Regions from separate parts of the Homo sapiens genome. Here region 1 is linked to region 2. The links come from fine-mapping of genetic effects on gene expression. A gene starts in region 2. The other region holds a variant in brackets. All regions are shown on one strand. Distances are from middle to middle. Region 1 holds the start of LOC107986185 (a long non-coding RNA gene). Region 2 holds the start of CC2D2A (coiled-coil and C2 domain containing 2A).

Region 1 (15,831 bases), 21 kb after region 2:
AGGGTGTGGATCAGCTGCAGCCAATCCCCAGGCTGGCTCTTTGATAAACAGGGGCCTGCCAAACATGAGATCCTCACTCTGGGGATTTGAACTGAGACATGAAGAAAGAGTCAGCAGGGATTGAGCAATTGGAGCTAAAGCAAAGAACATGTCATGAACTAGAGCTGGGCTGGGAGATGCCAGCAGAGATTGAAATGATGAGAAATCAGAATCCATGCTGTAGAAAAGGCAGATAACAGGGTGAGGAAACCTGTGAGTGGTATGAGAAGCCCATGGATGCAAAAGAAGCAGAGACGTGAAGCAGAGTGGAGTCAAGTTCTTCACTGAGGGCCAGTGTCAGGATCTACCCTGGCCTCCACCAAGGCCCTGGAGGGCTGTTGGAGCCACTCAGCTGGAAGTAATGGCCTATAAGGCCTGGTCCAAGCAGAACTCCAGCACCCATTACTCCTGCTCTGATTTTGTAAAATAGCGATTTCAGAAGGCAGTTGCCAAGTTTTGCTTTTAATTGGGAGTGCAAAACTAGGTATAGCCTTGCCTATTGAATTAGAATACAAGAGTTTCCAAACTTTCGTTAGAACTGGAAGGGTAACCAAAGGCTCCTTTAATTCAGGGAAGGCAAGTTGATTTCATCTCAAGGGTACATGCTTGTTGATGGATGGACCTGGAGACTTTGTTGAGAATTCTGAGGCTGCCCTGGGGCACAGTGGGAAGAAATGCTTCTATCTATTACCAATGTCTGCCATGAGTTTGGAGAAAGACAGCACTTACTTTCCACCACCAATCCAGTGTGGAATCAGAGGCTTAAAGGATTTAGGTGATTTGTCTAAAAGTCACACAAAGCTGATTATTGGAATTCCTGGGGCTAGATCTTGTCTTCTGACTTTCCACCCAAAAGATTCTCTAATGGCTTTCTCATCCAGCTAACTTTGGCCCTTTAAAACTGTTTTAGGAAGCTAAGAATCCCTTCTCAAAAGAACAATTACTTCTTGTTATATGAGAAATTATATGCACGGCCTTCCAAAAAGTTAGTTGGACTCATATTTATGTTTTTGTAGGTGAATTTTTGTTCATAATTTAGAGTTGCCAAATTTAGCAAAAAGGAATACAGGACACCCAGTTAAATATTTGAGACAGTTTTCTACTAAATGATTGTTATGTGAAATTTATATTTGAATCTTCTGAATTTTATCTGGCAACCCTAAAAGGGAATCAGGTGGGCAACTCCTTGTGTGGACACACCTTGATATATTGATGGATATATGGCTTCTGGGCCCTGACCATCTCACATACTAACCTTCTAGTTATTATTTGTCAATATTCTGACCAACTGGGACATCTCAGGAGGCTGTGCTTTAATTTTAGTTCTACATGTAGTAAGACCTGGATGTTTTCTGTAGAAAATCCTTGCAACTCTCTTTGTTGTTCTGGAGTAATAATAATAGTAAGACCTGAGTGTTTTCTGTTTCAGTAACAATGGGGATGCTCAGTGGTGCCAAATTTATCTGAAACTGTGGTTGGAATAGATCACTGAGACTTTGTTTTTTCTTGTTTATTTCCACCAAGGCAGCATCTCACAATCTTGTAAAAGATAGTACTTTTGTAATGAAAGAGCATCTATGCAACCCCTTAGAGTTTATGATTTTTCTCCTTTTAGTGCTAGCAGATCATTTTTTGGAACCCTAACTATATTGGGCAAGTCTTTACTTCGGTAAGTTCTGCCACCTCCATGATGGCACTGGAGTGAAGCCATGAATTCAGTCTTCTTCATATAGCTGCTCATAAATGCCTTTGCCATCTGACAAATGCATTGGTTCTGAATGACTTCATACTGTTGTAATCCATTGGGTTCATAGTTCTGGACTAAGAAAAACTCAATAAAATGATGTAAACTCAAGACTAATTTCCCTCCCTGTTCTAGTTAGGAAGAAACAATTTAAAAACATATAAACTAGTATTACTTGGTGGTAATCTTGCTTTAAAAAATCCTCTGGAATAGACATCCAGGTACGCCACCAGGAAACTTTAAGAATGATATCGTGTTTTACACTTCAACTCCTAAGAGTTTTATTTCTCTCTCCTTAGACATTTTCTCTGCAATTTTTGGAAACAAAATAATATGCAACTAGCCTAAGAGCATACATAAAATATTTTATGTAAAATGAGTACAATGTTTATTGTAAAAATTAAAAATAAAGGTCAAAAGAGTAGAGATTTAAAATTCCCCATTAATATTTTAATTTAGACTTTTTCTATGCATATGGGCAAACAGACTTTAAAAATGAAATGAGTACTGAAAATATTCCTCAGTCATCTACTTTGTTTAGTTAATATTTTGTGAATATCTTATGGTGCCAATACATTTCCATCCTCTTTTTTTTAAAGACAGGGTTTCCCTATGTTGCCCAGACTGGCCTCAACTCCTGAGCTCAAGCAGTCCTCCCCAGCAGCTGGAACTACAGGTGCAAGCTCTTGTGCCTGGTGGGGCATCCTCATCATTTTTTATGACTCTGTTTCATTGGATGAGTGTATCACAGCTCATTTCACCCATGTTGAGGCTATTTCTCAATTTTCCATATTGCAAGCTTTGCTGCAGGGCTCTTTCTGCAATTAAACCTTTGCACACATTATTAATTATTTTCTTGGAGTAAATTCTTAGAAATAGGAGACTTGGTGATTTTTGTATCTTAGAAAACATTTTAAAAAATCCTGGCTATAGTAAAAGAGAATTTGGATGAGGGCACAGTTTCTTGCTCTTCCTGTACACCTTCCAGGATGGAGTCTCTTTAACTTGGGATTCTCACAAGGGAAGAGATATCATACCTGAAATGAGGAGCAGCTATGGGGTCATTTCTGTAAATAAAGGTCAGTTGGAAAAAGTAGATTTGGGGGGCTGTGTAGACTCTCTCACCATGACAAGACTGTACAGATATGGTTCACAAGTGGTTCTCAATTTTGACCCCCCAGGAGACATTTGGCAATGATGGGAGATATTGTTGCTTGTGATGACTCACGTGGTTGGGTGGAGATGCTACTAGCATCTAGTGGGCAGAGGCCAGGGATGCTGCTAATGTCCTATGATGCACAGGACAGCCCTTAAAAAAAGAAGGATCTGGCTCAAAGTGCAAGATTCCTACCAAATTTAGGAAACAGTGATGCAGAGCAGAAATAAAAAGGGATCAATGAGTCTCTTGAAAACCATGGTACAGCACTGCAAATTTTATGTTTTCTTTTCTTTCAAAAGAGTCTTCAGTTACCCAATATATTTGGCATGTCTCAGGCTGATCTACAAACCACATTAGGGAACACACAAGGCCTGTGGAATGTGTGGTCCTACTTGCTCCTGGCTTCTGTTAGGATTAATCTTGACAAGAATGTGTAGTGTGTATAGAGGAATTTAGACTGCCTGGATTTTTCTAAGCATGATAGTACAACGATGATGCTAAAAGATTGCCTAGGTTCCTTTTGTGGAACTAAACCAAATGCAGAGGGTCAGCATCAATCCTTTGGGGCCAGTCTCTGTTCCTTGGGCAGAGCAAAGTAGGTTGTTATATTTGGGACTCCTTAGAGTTTGCCGAGCTGCATGTTCTGGCCGCACTGAATATTTTGATCATGAGTAAGCCAGTCATGATTGTGACAGGCTTAGCTCCCAGCTAAGGTCAGAGGAAAATGATGTTTGCTAGGATCAAAGGAAGATAATTGTGGATATTGCATTTCCTCCATAATGCAATGATCTTGCTGTGAAAACATGTCTTAAAGAAGAGGCCTTGAGAGGCAGGGGAGTGCATGTGTGTGTGCTCATGACAGGGCATGGGCATTGGAGGTGGATGGGCAGAGCTAGAATATCCCACATTTATTAAGGCTTGTCATGGGCAAATTGCTCAATTGCTCTGAGCCTCAGTACTGTTACCTCTAAAGGGGTAAGAAGAGTATTTAACTCATGATGAGCTGGAAAGCTACTAGGTTAGAATCTTGAACTCCTAAATCTCCACCAGCTGTTTGTTGCTGTTGCAAGTTTAGGAGAGGGACTTAGGAGGGACACTGTGGCAAAAACCCTCTGTTCATCAGTCCAAGGACTTCACTCCAAGATCCCATGCAATTTTTTTGTAAGTGGAGCTGGGCCACATCTGAGACTCAAGGGTTCCTTGTGCATAAATTACACAGCTCTGGAAAAATGTTCCTTCTGCTGTATGCATTCAAGGAACCAGTAAAAACAGGAAGCCAGTTTTATTGCATAAGCTGTGTGGAGTTTTAGAGAGACTAGAGAAGGAAGAGATCTGGGAGGGGAGCCCTGTGCTGGTTGATTTCCGTTGCTCCTACCCTCTCTCCTGGCTCCCATCCATCTTCTATCCCTGTCTGTTCTGAGTTTTGCCCAAGAAGTTCATCTCTGTGCACTGCATCACCAAGACTATCTGGGCACCTGGAGTCATGGGCTTTGACCAGTGAGGGGTATAAATAGGAGACTGAAAGGTAGAAGAGGGTGGTCAGGGGATTCACAGTCCTGGCTTCTTCCCTACTTCTGGCAGTGGCTGAGCTCTTCTGCAGGTGTAGTTCCTGTAGGCTGGTCCCTCTGCCAAGTCTCCAGTTCTTCACTGCACTTTGCAACCACCACTGCCTCTCCTCCTTTTCAGGATTTGGGATGGTGAAGCATTCCTGCTGTTGCTAGTCCTTGGATACTTCAGCATCCCTGCATGGTTCTTTTCACCCCACCTGCACCTTTAATACAGTTCTTTCATTTGACCTTCCATAGTGAAATCCTTTTGAAAGTGTTATGCTGCCTTCTGCCTGAACACTGATAGGCACATCCTGGAGAGAGAAGAACCCCTAGAGAACTTGGTATGTGGCCTTGAGAGTCTTTGAACTTCTCCATTCTGATGCTGAAGCGGCATCCCAGAACTTGGGAAGCTTCCATCCCAACGTCCATACAAATGCTACTTTTCTTTCTTTTCTTTTCTTTTCTTTTCTTTTCTTTTCTTTTCTTTTCTTTTCTTTTCTTTTCTTTTCTGTGTGTGGGTGTTTTTTTTTTTTTTTTTTTTTTAAGAGAGGAAGAAGGTGAGAGTGGTACTGAATTCTCTCTAGAGGTTAGAAGAATGCGCCACTGACAGGGGCTTTTCCTGAGGATAAAATAAAGTACCATGCTGAAAGGATCCAGTATGGTGCCATTTACTAGGCACACAGTAAATGGTAACTGCTGGTATCATGAGACACTGACTGGTGATCTCTCAAGGAAACAAGAAGGAAAACATGAGGTCAGCAATGTAGTTAACAACTGAGAGTAGCTTTTTAATCTCTCCTTTCAGGGCTGTCATTATGTGTTGGCTGAGGAATGAATTGGATTTACGGGCTCCTTTTTTTTTTTTTTTTAAATGCTTTTATTTTAGGTTGGGGGATACATGTAAAGGTTTGTTACATAGGTAACCTCGTGTCACGGGGGTCTGTTGTACAGATTATTTCATCACCTATGTATTAAGCCCAGTACCCAATAATTATCTTTTCTGATCCTCTCCCTCCTCTCACCTTCCACCCTCAAGTAGACCCCAGTGTCTGTTCTTCCCTTTTTTGTGTTCATGAGTTCTCATCATTTAGCTCCCACTTATAAGTGAGAATGTGTGGTATTTGGTTTTCTGTTCCATGTTAGTTTGCTGAGGATAATAGCTTCTGGCTCCATCCATGTTCCTGCAAAATACATGATCTTATTCTTTTTTATAACTGCATAGTATTCCACAGTGTATATGTACCATGGATTCTGTCATTGATGGGCATTTAGATTGATTCCATTTCTTTGCTGTTGTGAATAGTGCTGCAATGAACATTTGCATGCATGTGTCTTTATGGTAGAATAATTTATATTCCCCTGGGTATATACCCAGTAATGGGATTGCTGGGTTGAATGGTAGTTTTATTTTTAGCTCTTTGGGGAATTGCTGTACTGCTTTCCATAGTGGTTGAACTAATTTACACTCCCATCAACAGTGTGTAAGTGTTCTCTTTTCTATGCAACCTCAAACTGGCTCTTTTTGATACCATAGAGACTTATCTCCAAGGATGCTCTTCCTCTTCTTTTTATCATTATCTAAAATAGTTGCATATGTTATTGCCTATTCTAGGGTATTGATGTCAAAAATCAGAGAGTTTGAGGGGAAGAAGAAGTATTTCAGTTGGAAATAATTTATTCTTTCATTAAAAGTGGCCATTGGAGATCAGCATTATGACAGCCTGTAGGATGAGATCATCACAGATGCCAGGCTTTTACAGTATGAAATATTTAGCCAATTCTGACCAAATATTATCAAAAATTAGATTATTTCAGGGAAAAATCATTCTAGCAACACGTTTATTTTGCATCATGCAGACAAAATAAATGTGGTTTTGATTTTATATGAAAACAGCTTAGGAAATCTCTAGTTAATTTTGTCTGCCAATTAATTAATCTCTCTTTTTCTTGACCTGAAATCTTCATTTTCCTTTGGGAAATAATTTCTTCCTCCTCCTACCACCTCTGTCCATGTGATTTAGATGAGATGGATTTTTCTTTGAGCTCTAGTGCTGGGTTGTGATGTAAGCCTGGTCAATGGCAACATCACATTTCCTTGGCCAATTGTTGGTTGAGGGATAGGCTCATGATTCAAGTAGAACCATTCAGAATCAAAAGGCTGTCATTTCCAGGTATTTCATGGGAATTATTGAGAAAGATAATTTT[C/T]TTCCCCCTGCTCGGACTGCAAAATGCAAACCTGAGTTGCTGGTGGCCATCTTTGCAATAAATAAAGGCAATACCCTTCCTGAAAGTGAAGCCAGCAATGTGGGGAGCTGCTCTGTAGGAGGGAGAGAGATAAGACCCTGGTGACATTGTTTGGGTACCCAGGTCTGGCTCTGGGATTTTTGTTATTTCAGTGAGTTTCCTTTTACTTGAACCATGTTGAATTGGAGTCTGGCAGTTATAATCTAAATAATATTGATTAATGTACAAGATGATAATAGGATTTTCCTGTTGTGACACCTCCCCCATTTGACTCTGACCACATGTGTAGATTGTGACTGAAAAGAACTTGTCACTAATTAATTCATCATAATTTTATTGAGCACATACTATAGCAGTCATCATGTAGAGTCCTGGGATATAAAAATCAATAGGGCAAACAAACTCTCCATCAGATAGACAAATGTAAAAAATATATGAGCAATGTGCCAGCACGGTGGTTAAGAGAGTGGGCTTTGGCGCTTCACTGCCTAGGGCTACTGTGCCACTTACTATTTGCTTCACATATTTCATAACCTCTCTGCCTCTCAGTTTATCCATCTGTAAAATGAGGTGAATAATTGTTGTGAGGACTGTCTTAATCCATTTGAGCTACTATAATAAAATACCAAAAACTGCATAGATTATGAACAACAGAAATTTATTTTACAGTTTTGGAGGCTGGAAAGTAAGATCAAGGTGCCAGCAGATTTGATGCCTGGCGAGGGCCTGCTTCCCCATTCATAGATGGCCATCTTCTCACTGTGTCTTCATGTGTTGAAAGGAGGTCTTTGGGGCCTTTTATAAAAAATAAGGGCATAAGTCCCATTTATGAGGGTAGGTCTTTCATGACTTAATTACTTCCCAAAGGCCCCACTTTCTAACACCATCCCACTGGTGATTAGGTTTCAACATATGACTTTTGAGGCTACACAAACATGCAGACCGTAGCAAGGACCAAGTGAGCTGATACATGTAAACCACTCAAAAAGTGCCCAGTAAGTGTTTGCTATTGCTACCATGACTATGCACTGGTTCCCAGATGGCAAGGAACACACACGTGGTCATCTGTAATTCTCCTTAGGCACAGGGGAAGGGAAAGATTAGAGAAAAGAAAGTAACTTTTGAGCTGAACCTGAAAAGGTGAGGCACCCTAGGGCAAAGTACCCTAGAATTGCAGTTATCTGCATATTCTTGGATAATAGTTACACGTGGGTGACTTTTGAAGATGTGACTGTAAAAGTTTGCAGAAGCTACATCCTCAAGGGCTCAATGCACCATGCTAAACGATGCTTTTATGAGTATTAGGTAGGATAACATCTTTTCCAAGTGATCAAATAATCAAAGGGCTTAAGTAAAAACAGCATTTAACAGTTTCCATAATTGAAAAGTCCAAGGGAACAGCTGGCTATAGATATGTCTAGATTGGGGTTCAAATGATGACTCCAAGACCCATTTTCTCTCTTTGTCTCTCTGCTTCATCTGTGCATGGGTCTATTCTTGCATGGTATTATGCTCTGTGGTGGTAATGTGGCTGGTGGAGGTTCACAGGCTTAAGTCCAACAGAAAAGAAGGAGATTCTCTTCTATAGATGTCCCAGCAAAGTTTCATTGACTCTCATAGAGTCACCTGAATCAATTATTTTGGTGAGTGGGATGCTATACTCTGATGAGTTAGGCTAGAGATTTACATACTGGAAGTGTCAGTTCCACTGAGAAGCTCATAGACTTAGCACGTAAAGGAAGATAGTCCTTCAGAAGGAATTTAGGTATGGATACCAGAAAACAATATGAAATACACACCTGATGGCAAAACTTATAGAAGTTCAAAACACCTTTTATAGCGGAGGGATTGGGAGGGTCATTGCTGTTTTTTAAGCCGGGAAATGGCATGCACATTTTCATTTTAAAAGGATATACTCAATCTAGTGTGGAGGATGGATTGGAGGGTTGTGGTTGGAGGCAAAGGGCCAGTTACAACGTTTTTCACTGATTAAGGGAAGTGATGATGAATGTATGAATGACACCTTTTGCACCGGGAATGGAAAGGTGCAATGAATCAGATATGTGCATTTAGTGGCTGGAACCATAAGAATTTTATGCTGGGCAAAATTCAGTAGGGAAGGGAGGAAAGACATTTAGTTTGCACCTTACGGTTTTGACTTTGGTACAGGGTGGGTAGAGATGCTATTTACTGAAAGTGGAGCTACAGAGAGAGAGAGAGACAAAGAGAGAAACCTAATGATGTGGTTTGGATGTTTTTGTCCCTTCCAAATTTCATGTTGATCTATGACTCCCAATGTTGGAGGTGGGCCTAGTGGGAGGAATTTTGGTCATGGGGGTGGATCCCTCATGAATGGCTTGGTGCTGTCCTCATGCTAATGAGTTCATGTGAGATCAGGTTGCTTAAAAGAGTGTGACACCTCCCCCCCACTCTCTTGATCCCTCTCTCACCATGTGATAGGATGGTGGTGCCCTCTTCATCTTCCACCATGATTGGAAGCTTCCTGAGGCTGCACCAGAAGCAGATGCTGGCACCATGCTGCTTGTATGGCCTGCAGAACTGTGAGCCAAAATAAACCTCTTTTCTTTATAAATTACCCACCCTCAGGTATTCCTTTATAGCAATGCAAATGGACTAACCCAGCTCATATCTAAAATTTATTTACGTTCATGATCTTTTACACAGAGTGGTAGAAAAAAAGTATATTTAGAGTTTATAGAATCTATTTTTTATCATAAGCAACACTGTTCACAATGATAAATGACCTGGAAATACCCTTGTGCATGCAGGGGCACAAAGAAACATTTGTGGCCTGAAAATGTGTAACACAGGCACATTCATGTTCATGTACACACAGCATTATATTAGCCTCATTATTTTCTTTTTTTTTTGTTTTTCCCATTTCTTCTCATCTGCTTTTGACTGCTGTTTTCTTTTTATATCTTATTTATCTTCTTAAGTGGCTTTAAACTCTTCTAGAACAAGATGGTGTATAGTCAATAAATATTGCTTAATACATATTCATTACAAGTCAGCCTTTACAAAGAATGATTGCAATGAGACTTGGAACTTTTTAAACCAAAACTGTTTTGCTACTTTCTTTATACAAATATTTACAAATGTGGATAAACTGTATCTGCTATTTTTTAAGAATAAAAGACACCTATATTTGCTTAAGATTTTATTCGTTTAATACCAAAACAGCTCCTCTTTTCTCATGTCAGTTCTCTAATCCCCATTACCATCCCACCAGATATTTGAAAACGAAATTCATCTCTAGGCTTCAAACCAATTAAAGGAAATTCAGTTTTAAAAGCTACTCAAAATAGGCTTTGTAATAAAAGAAACATTTAAAAGATAAGTAAGCAATGTCCAAAAAATGAATGCATTCGTGGATTACGATCAGAAGAAAATTTTAATCACAGTGATTTGTGGTTCATGACTGTCTGCAATAACTTCTCCATTTCCAGTTTATCTAGCAAATCTTGTAGTCTTTAAAGGGCCCATATGTTCACTTTTCCCGGATTAGTTACTTCTGTTGGCTCTTTTTTATGCTTTATAACTTGGAATTCTATCTTTGGCTGTTATCTGTAAGCAGGTGACTACCTCAAACCACCTTTGCTGTCTCCTTTTTTTCTAATACTCATTGTTCTTGGTCTCCTGTACACATGTCCTGACTCAGAAGGAGAGCAATAAGTGCACAAAGTATGGCAGGAAGATGAAGACAATGAAAGCAAGATAGGGTTGAAAGACAGGAAAAGCAAGATAGGGTTGAAAGACAGGAAAAGCAAGCCTTGCCTTTGCACACAACTGCTAGATCATTGCAACTTTCATCTGTGGTAATGGCAGTATCCAGCTCTGAAATACACAGGGTCTCTACACTTTCTTATGAATAAATCCTCCAATTCTCAGGCTGGCTTTCAAAGCTCTTACAAATATGGTCCATTGATTCTCCTTCTGGGTCTCTGTTCTCACTTCGTCCCCATCATTACCTCTGTCTCAAGTGCGCTTTCCCCCAACTTGTGCCACTCCAAGTGTCACCCATCATGTAAGGCCCAATGAGCAGAGAGGATTTCCCTATCCCTTCTCTGTCACATCCTAATTTGGAAGTAAACATTTCCTCTTCTTTCACAGCATTTTGCCCTTATTTCCAGCCTAGAACTTAGCATATTTTATCATTTTCTCATCCAAAATTTAGGTATTTTTTGTGTGTGTGCATGCCATTTCCTTTCTGGTATCCTTAGAAATTTACTAGTCAGAGCTGGCTCCTGCACCCTCTGGGAAGTGAGGAGCACCTCTGCCCGGCCGCCCCTCTGTCTGGGAAGTGAAGAGTGCCTCTGGCCAGCCGCCGCACCATCTGGGAAGTGGGGAGCACCTTTGCCCAGCCGCCATGCAACCCTCCAAGTGTGAAGTGGAAACCTTGTGTGTGATGTTTCCGCCCTCCCCAAGTTTGCATTTTCGACAGTAAAATTTACTTTTAAATTAAAAAATTTAAATTGGGGAAGATTAAAAAAAAGAAATTTACCAGTCAGAGCTATACTATTAATATATTAATCTTGATACTCTTCTGTCTTCACAGAATCTAGCATGGTGATTCAAACATAAGAGGTATGAAAACTATTTATAAGTCAATGAGCAGAGAAAGGAATACATAGAAGGAGGATTGGAAGTTACCAAAAGGGAGGGATAAAGGGAATACTATTACCATAAACCATAGAAATGGTAGATCAGACAAAATCATGGAAGAGAATAATTGAAGAATTGCAGTTCAGTGAAGAACAAGGTGCTGACACAAGCAAGAGTGGGACTAAGGGAGGTGTGAGACTTGGAAGGGATATCTGTTTACTCAGACATTTGGCTCTCTCCCTCCTTCTCCTGTTCATTGCTCTCATCAGCTTACTCGTAAATCAGTGAACATATGCCTTGCTTTATTTGAAATAAATACCTAGCAGATCCATGAGAAGCAATGTCTTACCACAATGTAAAGTGGTGCCCATATTTATGAGAAAGCTATTAGGACAAATGTTTGTCTTGGGAAACCATCACACTAAAGGATTCAGAAGAATCACCTGCTGGCTATTTCTCTTCATTTCAATCTCCATTTTTATCACCCCTGCCAGGCCTCCTCTGTCTCTAGATTTTTCACCCCTTTGCTGTTGAGAATACCAATCATGCATTGAGGGTGCAAAGAGAATGCAGTGCTGAATTCCTCATTCCCTTTGCATCCATCACACCCCCTTAAACACATACACCTTGGCATGATTAGTGTTTTTCCATGCGTAAAAGCTTCTCTGGCCCCCAGCCTCAGGAATAGCAGACCCTGTGTGCTTTTAGCTTCAAATCCATCTGTTTGCTATGCTGCTCATCACACTGAATTGTGATAGTTTGATCACCACACACTAGCCCATAGGTAGGGGCTTTGTCTTAACTCATTATTAAATCTGATTCAGCGCCACAGTGTCTGGTCCTTACAGGCTCATTAAAGGGTTGTTGAGTGAATATATACAAACATGAAGGAATAAATAATAAAACAAAAAACATTTATCATTTCTCTGTAGCTTGCTTGAAAAATAGTTAGCATCTCTTACCTTTGGTTTTTGACTTACTATATAGCCTTTCGAGAATTGTCAAAGATTTTGGGATGTTATGTTTTTCTTAAATAACAGACTAAAATATATTTTTTGAAGATTTAATAAGGCAATATTATTGCCAACTGGTTTTATCACTCAGGGCATTTAATAGAAAATTTGTTAACATTGTCTTTAATTTGCTTAAATATTTATGAACATTGCTTTCAAGAGAATTTATATCTGGGGCTATTCTTTAATAGAATTCATTTTGTTGTGGTTTCAACTTTTCTGTGTTTCATCTTGTTTTGATAAATTCTGCTAGAATTGTCTTTAAATGCTTTAGAATCTGAGTGGGAGTCTCTTTGGATCCCATTCCTGCTTGTTCCACCTTCTGGAACCCCAGATTCAATCAGAGTGTTTACCACAGGGATCTTGGTCCTGATCACAATTCATCATCTTCTGATATGGAATCTAGGTAATCTGTGTCAACGTATAAGAGAAACCCGGAGAATAAGCTGTCTGCCCAACCTGGGTCTGAGAAGAGGCCATTCTGGTCTGTGAAGAAAATCTCCAGCCAGACTTCATCTTCTGGCTGCAGATAGATGACTGTGGACCCCGAAGCCACATCATGGTTTCCTGTGTTGGCGTCGAAGGTCTTTATCCGGTATTGCCCATTGTGTACCAGTCCGATTGCCAGATGCTTATTAGCCAATGTGATATCATAAGAAAAGTAATAGATCCCTGGGAAAGCACAGATGAACTTCCCTGTGGCAGGGTTGTAGTGCTCTCCCTCGTTGAAGAGGACCTTGTTAAATATAATAGGTAGTCTTTCTTCTGGGTAGCTGGTTGTGATGCCAACAGAAAAGGCGGATTTGAGCACGATGCTTCCACATCTGCAAACTCCAGGCAGCCCCGGGTCCCCTTGTTCTCCTCTGTCTCCCTTTGGTCCAGGAGGACCAATTGGACCTACTTCTCCTTTCTCTCCCTCTGGTCCTATGGGTCCTTTCTTCCCAGTCTCTCCTTGGTCCCCTTTCTCACCGGCAAGACCTAGCGGTCCAGTCTTACCTCTCAAACCTTCAGAAAGAGTATATAGTTTGATTAATAGTTCCTCAAAAGATATAATCACAAACAATATACCTACATGGTCCCAGCACATCCCAACTTTGTCTTTTCAGGCAACATTTAACAGTGTACTACTAAATAATAAACTTTTTTTTTTTTGAGATGGAGTCTCACTCTATCACCAGGGCTGGAGTGCAGTGGCATGATCTTGGCTCACTGCAACCTCCGCCTTCCGGGTTCAAGCAATTCTCCTGCCTCAGCCTCCCAAGCAGCTGGGATTATAGGCGCCTGCCACTACGCCCAGCTAATTTTTTGTATTTTTAGTATAGACTGGGTTTCACCATGTTGGCCAGGCTGGTCTTGAACTCCTGACCTTGTGATTCACCCACCTCAGCCTCCCAAAGTGCTGGGATTATAGGCATGAGCCACCGCGCCCAGCCAATAATAAACTTTTAAAACATCACTGGTGCACTAACAACAAAAATAGAAAATTTTCGTCAGAATTTAAGTCAATTTTCCTGAATATGTAAGAAATAATTTAAATCCTGACAAATTTAACATAATTAACTATCATTTTGATGATGGATCACTTGCCACTATATTATTCACATATAGGTACTGGGCACTACAGGAACCCTTCAATGAGCATGATGATATTATTTCTCAGAGTGGGCCCAGAGGGGCAGACAGAACCAGGCAAATCCCTAGAGGCTTCATTCTATTTCTATTTGTGATAATAATAAGAGAATTAATCAAAATTAGATTTGCTTATATTTATGAAGGATTTACTATGTTCCAGGGACAATGTTAAATGCTTTATTTGCATGCATTATCTTATTTAAGTTTCACAGTGACTTTATGAACTCAGAATTATTATTACTTTCATTGCAAATGAGGAAGCTGAGCCATAGAGGAGTTACTTTACTGAAGAGAAGAGAACTAGTGAATGATGGAGCTGTGGTCTGACCTCATGCCTGCCTGCCTGACTCTGGAGCCAGAGCATTTGGCAGGAACATAAATTCTTTTTTTTTCTTTTTTGAGACAGAGTCTCACTCTGCTGCCCAGGCTGGAGTGTCATGGCGCGATCTTGGCTCATTGCAACTTCCACCTCCCAGGTTCAAGCTATTCTCCTGCCTCAGCCTCCTGAGTAGCTGGGATTACAGGTGTGCACCACCACATTCAGCTAATTTTTGTATTTTTAGTAGAGATGGGGCTTTTGCCATGTTGGCCAGGCTGGTCTCGAACTCCTGACCTCAGGTGATCCGCCTGCCTCGGCCTCCCAAAGTGCTGAGATTTGGGAGTCCTGAGCCGCCATGCCCGGCCAGCAGGAGCATAAATTCGAAAGCGCATCTGGCACATAGCGAGGGCTCAACATGCTACAATAACCATAAAACAATGACTGCCACCACCATGCAGTAGCTTATTTTGTGAGGAGAAAACTGAGTCCCAGACAGGTAAAAAAAACTTGCTTCTGGGCTGGGTGCAGTGACTCACGCCTGTAATCCCAGCACTTTGGGAGGCCGAGGCGGGCAGATAACGAGGTCCGCAGATCAAGACCATCCTGGTTAACACGGTGAAGCCCCGTCTCTACTAAAAATACAAAAATTAGCCGGACGTGGTGGTGCGCGCCTGTAGTCCCAGCTACTCGGAAGGCTGAGGCAGGGGAATTGCTTGAACCCGGGAGGCGGAGGTTGCAGCGAGCCGAGATTGCGCCACTGCACATCAGCCCGGGCGGCAGTGCAAGACTCAGTATCAAAAAAAAAAAAAAAAAAAGTTGCTTCTGTACCAATGCTAGGACTAGAATCCAAGCCTTCTTAGTCGAATGATGTTTCCGGTTCATTAAAATGCCTTTTACCTTTGGGGTTGGAGTCAAGAATCTTAAATAGTGTTTGGCTCTGTCACTAAACGGTTGTATCATTTTAGGTAAGTCCCTTAATTTTTCTGAGTCTCTTTATATACAGAGAAGACATAATTGCTGTGAAAGAATTTTCACAAATTCCAAATCACCATACAGGAACATTTTCTGTGTGTCTAAATCTTTATATCTGCAGACCAACTATAGGCTAAATACAGAAAAATGGTGATCCTGGTTGAAGGAAATAAGCAAAATCAGTTTAATTTATATAAATGGTTTAAAATTTAAATAGTTTATGTATATAACACATTATATATACAATATTTTATACATATAAAATCTATATAAGACATTGATTTTGTATATGACATTCACGTTTTATATATAAAATAGATTATATATAAGACATTGATTTATATATGACATTTTACATATAAGGCATTGTTATATATATAAAAAAGCAATGATTTTATATATATAACAGCAATGATTTAATACCATCGAAAGATATCATTCAATTTTATGGCCAAATCTATTTCACAAATAGTGCTTGTATGATGATATTTCCTCAAAAAGTATCCAAATTATTAGTAACCTGTAGTGCACTT
Region 2 (15,831 bases):
TCAGGCTTTTTGGAGGACTGCATTGGACAGCACATATCATCTCCATTTCTGTCTTTGTTGTCTCAAGCCAGTGAGCCCTTGAAGCGAGAGAGAAGTAAGGATTGAGAGGAATACTCTCTCTTTTGTTGGATGGTCTGCAGTCTCCAAATTAGACAGCCTCCCTTCTCTGGTGTGGGCAGTGCTTTAATGAGTTTTTACATACAATGAGTCAGAAATTGCAGGACTCCACAGACAGAGGCTTGTATTAGCAGGTGTCTACAATTGTTACCTTCATTCTGAATGTCTTTAGAAATCAGCGTGCTTCAGGCAGAGCTATGCTCAATAATAGGTAGTAACTTTGAGCTGCTGTGTGTCAGAGTTCATAGAACCGTGACAAAACAGCTTCGGAGCATTCAGGTAGAGGTAAGACCTTGGAATGTCAGCAGGACTGCATTTCCTTCAACATCCACCTCCCCTTCTCCACCACGTCTCTGATATAGCACCCTCAGGGTGCATTTAGTCGGTGTGTGTTAAATTAAACTAAATGTGGCTTGAGGATACCTCTGTACTTTGAGTTCTTACATAACAAACTGCAATCTTAGTAAACTAAATGAAAGCCTAATTTAGAAGTATGCTTCTGTAGCAGGTAGCTGAGTCTCAGCCAATCACAGCAGCTGAGTGTCAATCAATCACAGGTGGCCTACTGATCAGACTGTGTTTAAATAAGGCAACACTGAGCTGTAACTAATCAAGCTGTTTCTGTACTCCACTTCCATCTTCAGTCCATAGATGCTGTCTGCCCACAGAGCAGAGCAGAGCTCTCTGAATCTCTTCAGGTTCTGAGGGCTGCCCAATTCACAAATCGTTCTTTGTACAATTAGACTCTGTTGAATCTAATTCATGTAAAGCTTTTCTTTTAACATGTGCAATAGATGCTGGTTGGCCTAACTTCCTCATTCACAAACACGTGTAACATAAGCATGCACACACAAACACATCCCTAGAGGACATCAAAGTGGCCACTTACCTCTGTAATTATTTTTACTTTTTCTTCCCTGGGATTCATTTTGGCTGGGATGGGTCCCTGACAAAGAACAATGAAGAAGTCAGGCATTTTGAAATCAATGAAATATTGCTTCTCTTACTATGGATATGTAAGAGGCTGGCCATGATGGTAAGTGAAGTGTTTGAGCTGGGTAGACTTTCCACTCACCAGGAACCCTGGCAGACCCCAGGATTGGTGGAGATAAGTGCCAGAGGAAAGGAAGGATGCCAGGTCTCCCTGTCCCTGGGAGCCTGCCTTTACTGTGCCCATAGAGTTGGATGGCACTGGTTGGAATCCAGCTCCAGAAGGACCATTTTACAGCTCATCTCCGCTACTGCCCCTCTGCACTCTCTGCCCTTGACCTTGGCCCTTATTTCACCAAGTAAAAAGACAAGACCAGAGAGGGCTTCTACATCCCCTTCCCCTCCCACCACATGGAGCCACCGCCACCTCCTCTGCTTCCACTTGCTACTATGAACCCCCATGTCCCATGGGGCCCCTCCTTGAACAGTGCACTAGGCCCCATCATTCCTCCTCCTCCAGGCCCTTGATCCTGACAATTCTTCACTTTCATCTGGATTTTCTTCCTGCTCTATTGGCTCATTCCTACCAGTGGAAAAAATGCTGTAATTTTTTCCTTCCTTTAAAAAAAGGCCCCTGCCCCCTACACTTTTTCTTTTGAGACGAAGTCTCACTCTGTTGCTTAGGCTGGAGTACAGTGGCACGATCTCGGCTCACTGCAACCTCCGCCTTCCAGGTTCAAGGGATTCTTCTGCATCAGCCTCCTAAGTAGCTGGGATTACAGGCGCATGCCACCACGCCCGGCTAATTTTTGTGTTTTTAGTAGAGACAGGGTTTCACCATGTTGGTCAAGTGGGTCTCGAACTCCTGACCTTGTGATCCGCCTGCCTGGGCCTCACAAAGTGCTGGGATTACAGGCGTGAGCCACCGTGCCCGGCCAAAAAAAGCCCTCTCTTAACTTTACTTCTCTTTCTAGCTGTTGCTCAATTTTTCAACAATTATAGAAAAATCCCTCAAAACATTCCCTCTCTTTCCAGTTTGTTTTTTTATTTTTGGGGTCTAGCATACTCTGCAACTGCTTTTGCCAATGATTCATCTCCAGTGACCCCTGCGTTGCCATGTCCAGTGATCAGTTCTCGGCCCTCATCTTACTTGACTTGGTCAGAGGCATTTAAAACATTTTCTAAGTTTTTAATTTTTGTGGGTACATAGTAGGTGTATATATTTATGGGGTACATGAGATATTTTGGTACAGGCATGCAAAGCTTAATAATCACATCACAGAAAATTGGGTGTCTATCCCCTCAATCATTTATCCTTTGTGTTAGAAACAATCCATTTATACTCTTTTAGTTATTTTTAAATGTACAATTAAATTATTATTAACTATAGTCCTTTCATTGTGTTATCAAATACTAGGTCTCATTCATTCTTTCTATTTTTTTTTTGTATCCATTAAACAACCTCCCCCGACCCCTGACTACATTTCCCAGCCTCTGGTAACCATCCTTCTCTTCTCTATCTCCATGAGTTCAATTATTTTGATTTTTAGATCCCACACATAAGTGAGAACATGCCATGTTTGTCATTTGCATGTTCTCACTTACTTGTGGGTGAAATAAGCCAGGCATGGAAGGGTCAGAAACATTTAGTGATGAAAGTGACCCATCCCTTCTTTTGAGATACTTTCTTCAGTTGGCTCCTGGAACAAGTTCTTTCTTGGTTTTCCTTTTACCCACTGACTGTTCCTTCTCAAACTCCTTTGCTGGTTTCTCCCTATCTCTCAGACCACCAAAGATAGGAATGCTGTGGGGCTTAGCTCTGCCTGTTTTCATTCCTCTGGCCATCTCATTATGTCTCTTGGTTTTAAATACCATCTGCATGCTGATACTTCCCAAATTTACATCCTGGGTCCAGACATCTCCCCAGAACTCCAGACTCAAGTATCTGCTTGATGGACACCTTCACTTGGCTTTACATACCTCAAATAAAGTTCTTTGCTTTTACTCCTGAGCCTGCCTTGTACTGCAGTTTTCCTGTTGTAGTAAACAGAAATCCATTTTGCTCAGGCCAGAAACCTTGCAGTTGTTCTTAACTCCTTTCTCAGTCTCACATGAATCCATCAGAAATCCTGCCAGTTTTGGCTTCAGATTATTTTCAGGATCTAATCACTTCTAAACATTTCCACTGTTATCACCATGGTCAAACACCATCTTCTCTCTTGAAATCTACTGCAAGAAACTCCTAATTTCTCAGCTTGCCACATTGCTGGGCTACCATATTCTCTGCATTGAAGCCAGTGCAAATTGATGAAAATTTGAGTGACATAATCACATTGCTTCACTCAAAATCCTCCAATGATTTCCCTTTGTCAACAGAGTAAAACCCAAAGTTTTTTCCAAGGCCTACAAGCCCTGTGTGATTTGCACTTGAATCCTGTTGCCTCAGGACCTTTGTAGCTGCGGTTCCTGCTACCTAGTTCTCCTTTTTCCCAAGATATCTGCATGGCTCTTGCTGTTTCACTTTCTTCAGGTCTCAGCTGAAATTTTATTATCAGAGAGCTCTTCTCTGACCATTCGTAATACAATGATCTCCTCCCAACACCCTCCTGGAATTCCCTAACTACCTTACAATGATTTTTTCACAGTACTTATTACCACTCAACATACATACTTACTTGTTAATGTCAGCCCATATCCATTAGAATATAGCTGCAAGAGGGCAGAAACATTATTTTGTTTATTGTTTACCCCCAGAGACTAGGATTATGGGACATCATGGACATTCAATATATACTTGTCGAATGAATGATTAAGTCACTGACTTATTGGCTGTGGTTCCATAGCCACATTCTGGGACTATTTAAAGCTCCACTGTTTCTTCTAGGCTGCTGTGAGGATTAAATGAGAAAACACATGGAGAAACAACAGGCATATGGCTGACAAATCATAAGCCCTTTCTAATATCCTTGGAACCCAAATCTTAACTGGGACTTGGTCAGGTCATTTAAGCAGCTCATCTGAGATCAAGGTTTCACTGACCCTACAGGGGAATTAGCATGTTAAAGGGAAATAAAGCATCTGAAATTCTATTGTCTTCTCTACAAACCTCATCACAGGGTACAAAAAATAGAGGAAGGAAAATGTAAAAGCAGCTAAGAAAATAGAGAGGCAAGGAGATAACCTAGAGTGAATGAGGGGGCAGATAATAAAGATGAAATGCAAAAGTACATGAGAGCTCTCTAATGAACAACTCTGGTCATTGCAAACTGAAAAAAAAAAAAAACCTGTGAAACATTTTAGTAACTAAAAAAAGTTCTCTATAAGTTAATAAATGCTTTATATGGAAGAAAAAAATAGAAGTAGAAAATGAAAAATGTAATGGGATTTTCTTTTTTCCTCATTCTTTCCTGATCATTTCCTTTAAATGAGTTTCTAAGGAAATCAAATGACACCGAAATTTATTTTTTATATGAACACTGTTGCTAAGAAAAGATAAATCAATACTGCCTGGTTTTAATATGCAGTTTGCCATCATCTTATGCACTGGTACTTGTTAATATATTCCTACTGGCAACATCAAAATAGCTATGATTTACTGCACACTTATTTTGTGCTAACTATAGACATGTTCTCTTTAGTCCTCACAATAACATGTCTGGCTTAGTAGTATGTGCCCCAATTTGCGTATGAGTAAACTGAGGCTCTGACAATTTACATGATTTTTCCAAAGTTATAATTATTAAATGTCACATTCAGAACTTGATCCCAAGACTCTGTGATTCCTGAGTCCTCCCTCACTCCACTCTACCCCTCCATCTCACCATTTATTCTTGCTTTTGCAATGGCATCAATAATTATTCTGTGCTTTCCAGAATAGTGGGCTATTCTGGAAATATTTACAGTTGAAAGCTGTGAAGCATTGCACTGGTGAGAAAAGGCTTAGGCTACATTAAGCCAATGATTTATTTTACTCAGTGCAGAAAACCAGATATATTTTTTCAAGGAAAGTACTGACACCTTCATCTGAATAAATGGACTATTCCTAAGAGTCATCAGTGGGTCAGAGCCATACCTGGAGGTTGAGATACAACGCATCTCAACTCCATATTGGTTGCTTAAAAAATCATACAATATATATGCCCTACTCCAGGATGGCAAAAACATGGGTTTATAGGAAGAGTGGTCCACATATTTCTTTGCCAAGGAATATGTGGACCTGAGTTCCAACTTCAGCTTTATTTATTAGCTGTGTGATCTTGGAACAATGCCCTCCCTTCTCTGAGACACGTTTTTTTTTTTTTTGTCTGCAACATTGCAATCATACTTCCTACCTTGAAGGATGATTAATTTATAAGGGCTAAATGATGAAATGTGTGTAGTAAAATGCCTAGCACAGGCTGGGCTCTCAATATTGGTAGGTTTTGTTACTAAGAAAAAGTGATTGTGGGGAGGGAAAGTGGAAAAAAGGAATGAGGAGGGAAAAGAGCTTGGGGGATAGAAGAGGAGTCATGAGAAAGACCTTAGGTGATGTTCAAGCCCACCCACCTTCAGCTCCAATCTTCAACCCCCAGCTACCATAACTCATGTTTCATGTCTCCCTCCCTTCAGCCAGGCCCAGGGCAGTTGCCTTGCTGTTTCCATTTATGGTGCTTCTGAAACCTCCTGCACTTCTACCCATGAGTATTTTCTTCCTCACACCCTGAGAACATTTTTCTGTTCCCTCCTGGAGCTTGGACACCTGGGGAGGTGCCACATACATTGTTTTGGAATACATTATCTTATTCTACAAGTTATTCCAGCTGCAGTTTCCCTTAGCATAAGGTTAGTGACCAATAGCTTTATAGAATCATTTAATCAGCTCGATATAATGTACACTGGCCTTGAAGAGTACACATGAGTACCATATTTGAGCTGTGTTACGTGATATATGACCAGTGCATTTACATGATGTGCTAAGTACTGGAAGCCCCTCCCTGGATGTCATCCCACTGTCCTCTCAGTGTTTTTATAAATCTCTTATGGCACTTAGCTCATTGTACTCTTATCATGTGTTTATAGGTCTGTTTTCCCAGCAAATTCTGAGCTTCTGACCTAGTCTAATTTATGTTTGCACACTCTAAACTTAAATTCATTGCCTGGTGCATTGTTGATGCTCCATAAATGTTTGAATGAATGACTCTATAAGTGAGCTCTAGGATATATATATATATATATATATATATATATATATATATATATATAGAGAGAGAGAGAGAGAGAGAGAGAGAGAGAGAGAGAGAGATTTCATGCTGGTGCTGAATTTATTTGCAGAAAAGGTTATATGAAAATGCAGTAGCAAACATATTTCTTATTTGACTTTATTAGCTTTTCATACCACCTCTTTGCAATGAAGGGAAACAAACAATCAGCTTAAGTTGTAGCCAGTACATTTTCTTGAAGTCTTTGGAAAGCACAGCAACTCTTAGCACTGTGGTTAGTAGCCCTTTCTCTGTCTCATACCAAGAAAAGTGTATTTTGCAGTAATTAGTGCTTCTCCCCTTAAGCCAGTTTGAACTAAAAGGCCCATAAATGCAACACGCAGCTAATGTTTCACAGAGCTTTGGTCAGAGAGCATTTTCACTCAGGACTTGTGATGAACTGGACTTACATTTCCTGCAAACCAGATACCAGATAGCAGCTCAAATCAAAGCTGCCAAGTAATGGTCTATGTTCCCATTTCAGAAAGTAAAAACATAAATAACGATGAGAGCCCCTAAATTTACAATTCATTAAATCCAGTCTCACGGTATCCTGGAGAGGCTGAACTTCAAGCCGGGTAACTGAAAACAGGAAATCACTGTTGCAGCCTAAAGTCCGGTTAGGGACTGATTTACCTTAAGAAACTTTACAAAAGGCACTTTGCAGATTCTGCATTCTAGGATGGAAGTGGAGAGAGACGGTGCTGTTGAATCTTTTAAAAGGGTCCGGAGGGAAAGGCTGAGTGTTGGAGATGCCCCTGGGCTCCTCCCTGGGAAGCTGCAGCCATGTCTTGGAGCAAAAACACCAGCTTAGCAACCCGTTCCTAAGGAAGGTCACTCGGTAGCTTTTTTTTTTTTCCTTTAAAGTGACAGGCTACTTCCAGTAGTGGAGTACAAGCATGCTGGGTAAGCAGAGACGCACAGCCTGCAGTAGAAGGACGGAGAGAAATCAACATGAGCAGCACTGGAAATTAGGTCAAGCCTTAAGAGCTGCCCCTCCCTCATGTCATCCGGTCGTCTTGCATTTCCAATGAAGAACAGGCTCAGAGGTGGGGGGATTTAGAATCTTAAAAGGTCGTCATTACATGGTGAAGCTGTCTAACGTGGCAGCAGCAAAAGCTCTGTGGAGGTGCTGCAGAGTACCAACAAATGTTGCACTTGAGTGTTTTCCAGTTAAAAGTGGAAGGTTGAACGCACAAGTTTAATCTTTGCCTATTCTCTGAATCCCACTGCAATTCCTGAAAACGGATATAAATGTTATGGCTCAAAAAAGTTGGAAAAAAAAAAAGAGGGAGAGGTAGGAGGCAAAGTAGCTGGAAGAGTAATAGAATGAATGGAGCCAAGGAAACACACTCCAATAGACTAGTGTGTATGTGCACATGTGTTTGTGTGTATTTGTGTCTGTGTGTATGGTGTGTGTATGTTTGTGTGTATGTGTATTGACTGTATCTTCTTATTTTCTGTATTCTTGATGCTCTGGCATTTGGAGCCTTGATCCTGGAGAAACTGATTCTCCTATGTTAGCTAATTTCTAGAGATAGCAAATGATTCCCCTGAAATATGCAAAGTCTCCTTTGATATACAAGCCAACCAATCCAGAGCCCACACAACCATCTCCATTATCAAACTCTCACACACTAAGCCAATATTCCTCCTGTCCTAAGTCACCCCAGGTCCAGATACCAGACCACTATAGCCCAGAGAACACCACGATTATTCAAGCTATCCACTCCTAAATTTATGCAGCACCCTACCCTGCTTCACCTATTCCTTCCTGGGAAAACCCTAGTAAAGGCTCTGTGCTGTACTCTGCTGTCTCCGTTCTGCCTTCTGACCAACATTGGTTCTTCCCTATGTGGTCCTGTGTGGCATGCCATGTTCTATGATTTGAATGTGTCTTCCCAAAAGCATGTATTGGAAACTTAATCCCTAACACAATGGTGTCGGGAGGTGGCACCTAATGAGAGGCAATTAGGCTGTAGGGCTCTGCCCTCATAAATGCATTAATGCCATTATTGCAGGAGTGGATTCCTTATAAAAGAATGAATTTGGCCTCGTTTTCTCTCTTTCTCTTTCTTGCTCTCATGTTTTCTTGCCTTGCACCATAGGATGGTGCAGCAAGAAGACCCTTGCAGGATGCCAGCCCCTTGATCTTGGACTTCCCAGCCACCAGAACTGTGAAAAATAAATTTCTGTTCATTATAAATTGCCCAGTCTGTGTATTCTGTTACAACAACAGAAAACGAACCAAGACACCATGCTTCTTGTTTCTAGGGATCTGTTAAGTATAAACTTCTTCTTTTGTGCCAATCATGTTTGTGTCTGTGTGTCTTACCATACCTAATTAAAACAAATCCAGAGTACATTTTTTGACACAGCCTGCATGCATGTGTATGTGTCAATGTATTTGTGTTTGTGTCTCTGTACGTGTATGTATGTGTGTGTGTGTCTGTGTATGATGGGGTGTGCACGTAGGCATGAATATGAGGAAATGAGCTGATTTACTGTGCCAGGATTTGGGGCAGCAGTGTTATAGCTGAATTGTGTTCTCTCTCATCCCCAAAGATGCTGAAGTCCTAACCTCAGTATCTCAGAATGGGACCTTATTTGGAGATAGGGTATTTACAGAGGTAATCACATTAAAATGAAGTCATTAGAGTGAGATCTAATCCAAGATGATTGCGTCCTTACAAAAGGGGAAATTTGGATTCAGAGACAGACAAAATAGAAGAAAGGCAACGTGAAGACATGGGGAGAGCACCATCTCCAAGCCAGGGAACACTCAAGGCTATCAGCAGCCAGGAGAGAGGCCTGGAACAGACTGTCTCTTGAAGCTTCACAAAGAATCAACCCTGCCACACCTTGATTTCAAATTTCTAGTCTCCTGAATTGTTAGAAAATTTCTGCTGTTTAAGCCACTCAGTGTGTGGTACTTTGTTACAACAGCATCAGGAAACTAATACAACCATAGACTAAGGAAGGTGGGGAGAGATACGGGGCTAAAAATGCAGGAAGATTTGAAAGTCTGTATATTAAGGGATTGATCCTCAGGATCCTTTTTCTTGGCAGCCTGAAAAATGCCCATTCCTCAGGCATAATTTCCGTCCTCCACATCTGCCTCATCTGCTGCTGCCCAAAGGAGACTGGCGGTTTCTTTTCTAGGGAAGTTAAACCAGAGACTCTCTGGTCTCAAGTTCCCAGGTACTGCAGCAAGTGAGTGTGTCTCAGGATTGAAAACTGTATATGAAATGAAGATGTTGCAGGGCCCTTTCTGAACCTTTCTCAAGAACTTAGACAATCAAGAACATGCCATTGGCTCCCCCATCCTACCTCTACCTGCACAAAACTGGAGAAAGTAGAAAATTATTTTCTGGAAAAACTGAATGATTATAAAGCACAGACCCTACATACTGACATTTCTGGATCCTCCAATGACAAAGCTAGCATATTGCCCTTACAGAAAAGCATTACAAAAAACATTAAAGGATCTCAGGCTAGGAAATTTAATGCTTGTAGTTATAAAAAGAGAGAACCATGAAAATGGAAAAGTATAATTTACCAAAGGAGTAATACAAGAACAACTGTATGAAATAATGTATTTTCCAATTGAAGGGGACAATCTACTATCTCGTGCTGGTAAAAGAAGACAATAAGAAAACTTGTCTGTCTTGGCTTGTATTCTGCATGTGGTGAGAAAAATATGAAGAATTTACAACCATTGGTTTGCACCATGCAGTTTGTCTTATTTATGCTCCTTATATATTTTAGGAGGCCCCTAAGTGATAACTTTTAAAAAGTGGCCTCTGTCTACTGTATCCCCGTGGGGTGCCAGGCAGAAGTTATTACAAAACTTTTCTGGAGGAACACACCTTCAATTGGACAATTCAGGATGTCCACAAATAAACACAGAGGAAGATGAGCTCACAACCCAAAATTAGACAACAGAAGAGAAACACTCAAGAGTCCACAGACAAACCAGAGGACACTATTAGATACTCAAGAGTTTCTTGCAATACAATAATCAGATGGAGAGTGGAAAAATAACAATGACCAAATATTCAAGAAGATACAAGGAGGATTTGAAAATATGAAAGAAGAGTGAGACACTATCAAAAAGATCAGACAAATTCAAAAAGTAACCAGATAGAACTTTTAGAAATAAATAATACAGTCACAAATTTAGATAAAAGTCAAAGAATGTGCTAAACTGTAGATGAGAGAGCTGAAGAGATGCAAAAGATAGGTTTAAAAAATTGAAATGTGGCACAGAGATATTGAAAATAGGAAAGAGTAGGTAAAAGATACAGGGAGAAATTGATGAGGTCCACCATATCCAGTACAGTACCAGAAGGAGAGGAGAGAGAAAGAAGTTGAATGCTCTGTCTTACAACTGAGGGATCTCGGTCAACTTTCTTAACCTTTCTAGGTTTCAGTTTCCTTCTCTGTAGGAAACTGAGGTTTAATAATAGTAACTATTCCAGAGAGAGTTGTTAGGAAATTTGTTAAGTTAATAATTGTGAAGCACTTAGGACAGTCCTGGCACATAGTAAATGTTGCAAGGTTTATTAAGTGAAGAAAAATATGAATGTTTACCGTAAGAGATTATCTACTTGAAATGGTCAGCTGCCATGAGAGGAAGGACTTGTTCACCACTCTTTTGCTAATTAACCGTCTGATTATTACCTCCCTGATATTTTAAAAGTCTCATGGTCTGCCAACAGAGCTAGCTGGGCACGTCCTCTTTGATCTTTAATACTGAACTAATTCATAAGAATCATACAACTTCTTAAGTTCCAAAAATATTAAAAAGTATCATTGCAAAACACCATTACTTGCAAAAGTTCTTATGTAAGCAAAATAAATGAATCTAGCAAATTTATTTTAAATCATAACACAAAAATCTCATTCTTTTGGTTAAGTGTTCCTAGTTGGCTAAAGAGTTTTTCATCAAGAATAAATGTTGAATCACATTATCACAAGCTTTTTTCTACATCTTTTGAGATAATTAAATATTATTTTTATTCTTTCATCTATTAGTGTAGAGAATTGCATTATCAGGCATTTTAATGTCAAATTGTGCTTGCATTCCTGGGATACACTCAATTTTGTCAAGATACTTCAAAAATTAATATTGGATTTAATTACCACTTTCTAGAAATTTTTGCATTTATGTTCTTAGCTGAGATCAGCCTTGTATTGTTCTTGTCTCATTTTAGGATAAAGGATAGTCTAACCTCAAAAAAAAAAAAAAAAGCAGACTAATATTTCTCTCTCACTCATCTTTGTAACAGTTCAAGTAAAAATAGCTTTATCATTTCTGTGAAGTCTATACAATTGTCTGGGTCTAATAAGTTTTTTAAAAATTATGGTAAAATGTGTATACATGAAATTTGCCATTTTACCCATTTTAAAGTGTATAATTTAATAGTTTTTAACACAGTTGCAATGTTGTGCAACTGTCACCACTATGCTTCCAAAACTTTTTCATCACTCCAAACAGAAACTCTACACCCATTAAATAACAACTCCCCATTCTCCCTTCCCTCATTACCCCTTGGTAAACTTTAATTTACTTTCTGTCTCTATACATTTGCCTATTCTAGATATTTCATGTAAGTGGATTATTACAATATTGTCCTTTTGTGTCTTGTTTAGTTTGCTTAGTATAATGTTTTCAAGGATCATCTGTGTTGTAGCATATGTCAGTATGTCATTCCTTTTTAAGGCTGAACAGCATTCCATTGTATATGTAGATCACATTTTGTTTATCCATTCATCTGCTGATGGACATTTGGGTTGTTTCCACCTTTTAGCTATTTTGAATAATACTGCAGTGAACATTTGCCTAAAAGTATTTGTTCAAGTATCTGTTTTCAATTCTTTTGGGTACATACCTAGAAGTGGAATTGCTGGATCGTATGGCAATTCTGTTTAAGTTTTGAGGAACTGCCAAATTATTTTCCACAGTGGCTGCACCTTTTACACTCCCAGTAGCCCTGTACAAGGGTTCCAATTTCTGCACATCCTTGCCAACACTTGTTATTTTTAGTTTTTTTTATTATTATTATTTTATTTGAGACTGAGCCTCGCTCTGTTGTCTGGGCTGGAGTGCAGCGGCACGATCTCGGCTCACTGCAACCTCTGCCTACCGGATTCAAGCTATTCCCCCGCCTCGGCCTCCTGAGTAGCTGGGATTACAGGCACCTGCCACCATGCCTGGTTAATTTTTTTTGTATTCTTCGTAGAGACAGAGTTTTGCCATCTTGGACAGGCTGGTCTTGAACTCCTGACCTCAGGTGATCCGCCTGCCTTTGGCCTCCCAAAGTACTGGCATTACACATGTGAGCCACTGCACCTGGCCATTTTTAGTTTTTTAAATTATGGCCATCATAGAAGGTATGAAGTGGTATCTCACTGTAGTTTTAATTTGCATTTCCCTGATGAGTAGTGATGTAGAGCATCATGCTCCATTGTACGTATTGGCCATTTGTATATCTTTTTTTGAGAACTGGTATATGGGTGTGGGTGGTTGTAACTAGAATTCTGACCACAGACTCAATTTCTTTACTCCCTACCAAAATATTTAGGTTTTACATTTCTTCTTATTTCAGTTTTAGTATATTATATGTTTTTAGGAAATTGTCCTTTTTCTTTTTAAAGTGATTGACATAAGGTATTTCAAAATATTCTTTATTATTTTAAAACTCTGATAGACTTTCGGTCATATTCCTTTGATTATTCCTAATAATAAACATCCTGTGCTCTATCTTGGTATGCCTTTATGGTGGCTTTATAAACAAAACCCCCAAGTTATTTGGCACCCCTTTTATCAAGAAGTGGGGTCTATCTTTTGTCTATTTGTAACTGAGTGGACTAGTAACTCTATTGACCAAGAGAGTATAGCAGAAGTGATGCTGGCTTCCTGGCTGAATCAGGAGGCTAAACCATAAAAGATGATGTGGTTTCTATGTTATTTGCCCAAACTTTTATACTTAGAGCCCTGACCCACCATGTGAGAAGTTTGACTACTTTGAGGCCACCATGCTATGAGGGAGCCAGGCCACATGGGAAGGCTACACATACACACTCTGTTGGAAGTCCTAGTCTGAGTTGTCCTAGCCAGGGCTCTAGACATGAGAGTGAACAAGCATTCAGATGATTCTAGCCCCAAGTTGTTTAGTTGCCTCCTCAGGTTCAAGTTCTCTCAGTGAAGACTCCAGACATTGTGGAGCACAGATAAATGAACTAGCTGTGCTCTGTTCAAATTCCTGTCTCCCAGAATCCATGTGCATTCTAAAATAATTATTTTAAACCACTACATTTTGGGGTCATTTGTTATGCAACAATAACAACTATAGGAGTTATACCTTTAAATAAATGAAAAAATATGAATGAATGAATGAATGAATGAAATACAGTCATGATTTTTTTACATGGAATTCTGAGGGACATACTTTTTACATGTTGCTGTAGTTTAAATGTTTTTTTCCACAATTCATGTTGAAGTTTAATTGCTATCGTAACAGTGTTGAGAGGTGGGACCTTTAAAAGGTGATTAGGTCATGGGGGCACCACCCTTATGAATGGATTAATGCTATCATTGAGGGAGTGTGTTAATGATCACAGGAGTAGTTTTCTGGTAATAAGGATGAGTTCTGCCCCCATCCTCTCTCTGCATCACAGTTTGCTCACCATGTGATCCTTTCAGTATGTTATGATGCAGCAAGAAGACCCTCACCAGATGCCACTTCTCAATCTTGGACTTCCCAGCCTCCAGAACTGTGAGCCAAATAAATATCTTTTCTTTATAAATTATACAGTCTGTGGTATTATTTTATAGCAGCAGAAAATGGATTAAAGGACATGTTGTCTTAGTTGGCTTGGGCTGCCATAACAAAATATCATCGACTGAGTGGCTTAAACAACAGACATTTATTTCCTGCAGTCCTAGATGCTGAAGTTTGAGAACAAAGAGTGACATTGTCAGGTTCTGGTGAAGGTTCCCTTCCTGGCTTGTAGATGGCCACCTTCTATCTGTGTCCTCACAGGCTAGAGATCAAGTGAGCCCTGCTCTCTTTCTCTTATAAGGACACTAATCCTATCATGGACGCCCCACCCTCATGATCTCGTCTGAACCTAATCACCTTCCCAAGACCCCACCTCCAAATGCCATCACATTACGGGGTAGGTCTTCAACATATGCATTTTGCAGGTAACACAAACATTCAGTATGTGACACATGTATACCTAAAAAAAAATAAGCAAATGCATTCAATGCCTTTGAGGATAATGCCACTAAAGTATGATGCATTTGAAGCCTCTTTGGGAGACTAGGATACTGTACAACACTAAAAATTATAGAGCCCGATATGAGACTACTATGCTATATTCTCTTTGGGGTAAAGCTGCAGTGGTGCATTATTTAGGTCAATAAATGGCTAAAATATGCCTTTCACACTTGTACATGTGAAACACAATCGTAGCTTTAGGTGAATGTGTCATTTTTACTGGTTCTTTGAATTTTATACTACTTTTGATTGTAGCTGATTCATTCTCTCTGAAAGAAAAATTTATCACAAGGGAAAACCTGACTAAAATAAGGTTCAAGTTGGACACTGAAGAATGACTTTTGAATCATAAATTTTATAAAACCATGCCTTTCAATTTGGATTTATCTTTTCCAGTTTACTGAATTACATACCTCTCTCCCTCAAACATAACTTGAACTCCAGCAAATTAGAACCTCTTGGGTTTATAGTAAATAGAGAGAAACACTTATTGACTCAGATACATTGACTGTGTAGCCCATTTTTATTTTATAGATACTAAAGCATTTAATTTTCTTCCTCTAGTGCTATGATTTTCAATCTGTTTTGAATTGCACACTTTCTTCTTATTTGCTGCATTTCACAACATTCTCACTTTCTAAGAGAGCTGTTGGAGCTATAGAGAATAAAATGCTGTAAGACTCATTTTATTTAGAGAGTCATGTCATAATTTGAATTAACTAGAGATGCTCTTACATATCAGAGAAAACTGCTGCTCCAGTATAAGTAGTGAATTTTTGTTATTTTTGTTGAAAAGGATATTTTTCTATAATTTTTATATTCTTTTCTCTCCAGCTACTTCCCTTAAATGCATCTCACTGGCAGGACCTGCTTCACCAGCTTAGTGTACAAATATCATCAGAACTCTTTCATTTTCTGTGTAGTTGCTTGAAAATATTCTTGCCCTTTTTAGCAGGGCATGTAATGTCTCCGTCTTGAAGCTTCATTGCTCTCTAGAATTGCTCATAAATCTTGAGGGGCTCACTTGATTCAAAGGGTAACCCTTTGTGCAAATGCCAATGGAGAGAGAAGTAGCTAGTCAATTACTGCTGGAAATGGTTCCCAAGAAGTCTAAGCAATTTTGCTCTCAGCTACATTGATGTTTCTGTTAGTCATACCAGCTGCCTCACATTAGAGATTCCAGGTTTACCCTCTTTCAGGTTATACTAGTGCTTTTCAACCAATTTTGACCCTCTTGGACATTTGGCAAAGTTTGGGGA

Evidence for each region. PIP is the estimated chance that this variant, and not a neighbour inherited with it, causes the effect. A credible set is the group of variants that fine-mapping cannot tell apart.
Region 1: its variant is the best candidate, but not a certain one, in a credible set for the expression of CC2D2A in whole blood (TOPMed, PIP 0.55).

The regions. Positions count from the first base shown.
Region 1 is chr4:15,439,717-15,455,547 of GRCh38, reverse strand. It overlaps C1QTNF7 (C1q and TNF related 7), which reads right to left. Exons shown (of 3, transcript NM_031911.5): 3 at 9,381-13,380. The coding sequence ends at 12,749. LOC107986185 (a long non-coding RNA gene) reads right to left here and starts at 9,221. Exons shown (of 2, transcript XR_001741392.1): 1 at 9,187-9,221; 2 at 7,054-7,531. The variant C/T (reference allele first, on the strand shown) is at 6,698.
Region 2 is chr4:15,461,147-15,476,977 of GRCh38, reverse strand. CC2D2A (coiled-coil and C2 domain containing 2A) reads right to left here and starts at 7,096. Exons shown (of 37, transcript NM_001378615.1): 1 at 6,921-7,096; 2 at 1,007-1,063. The coding sequence starts at 1,045.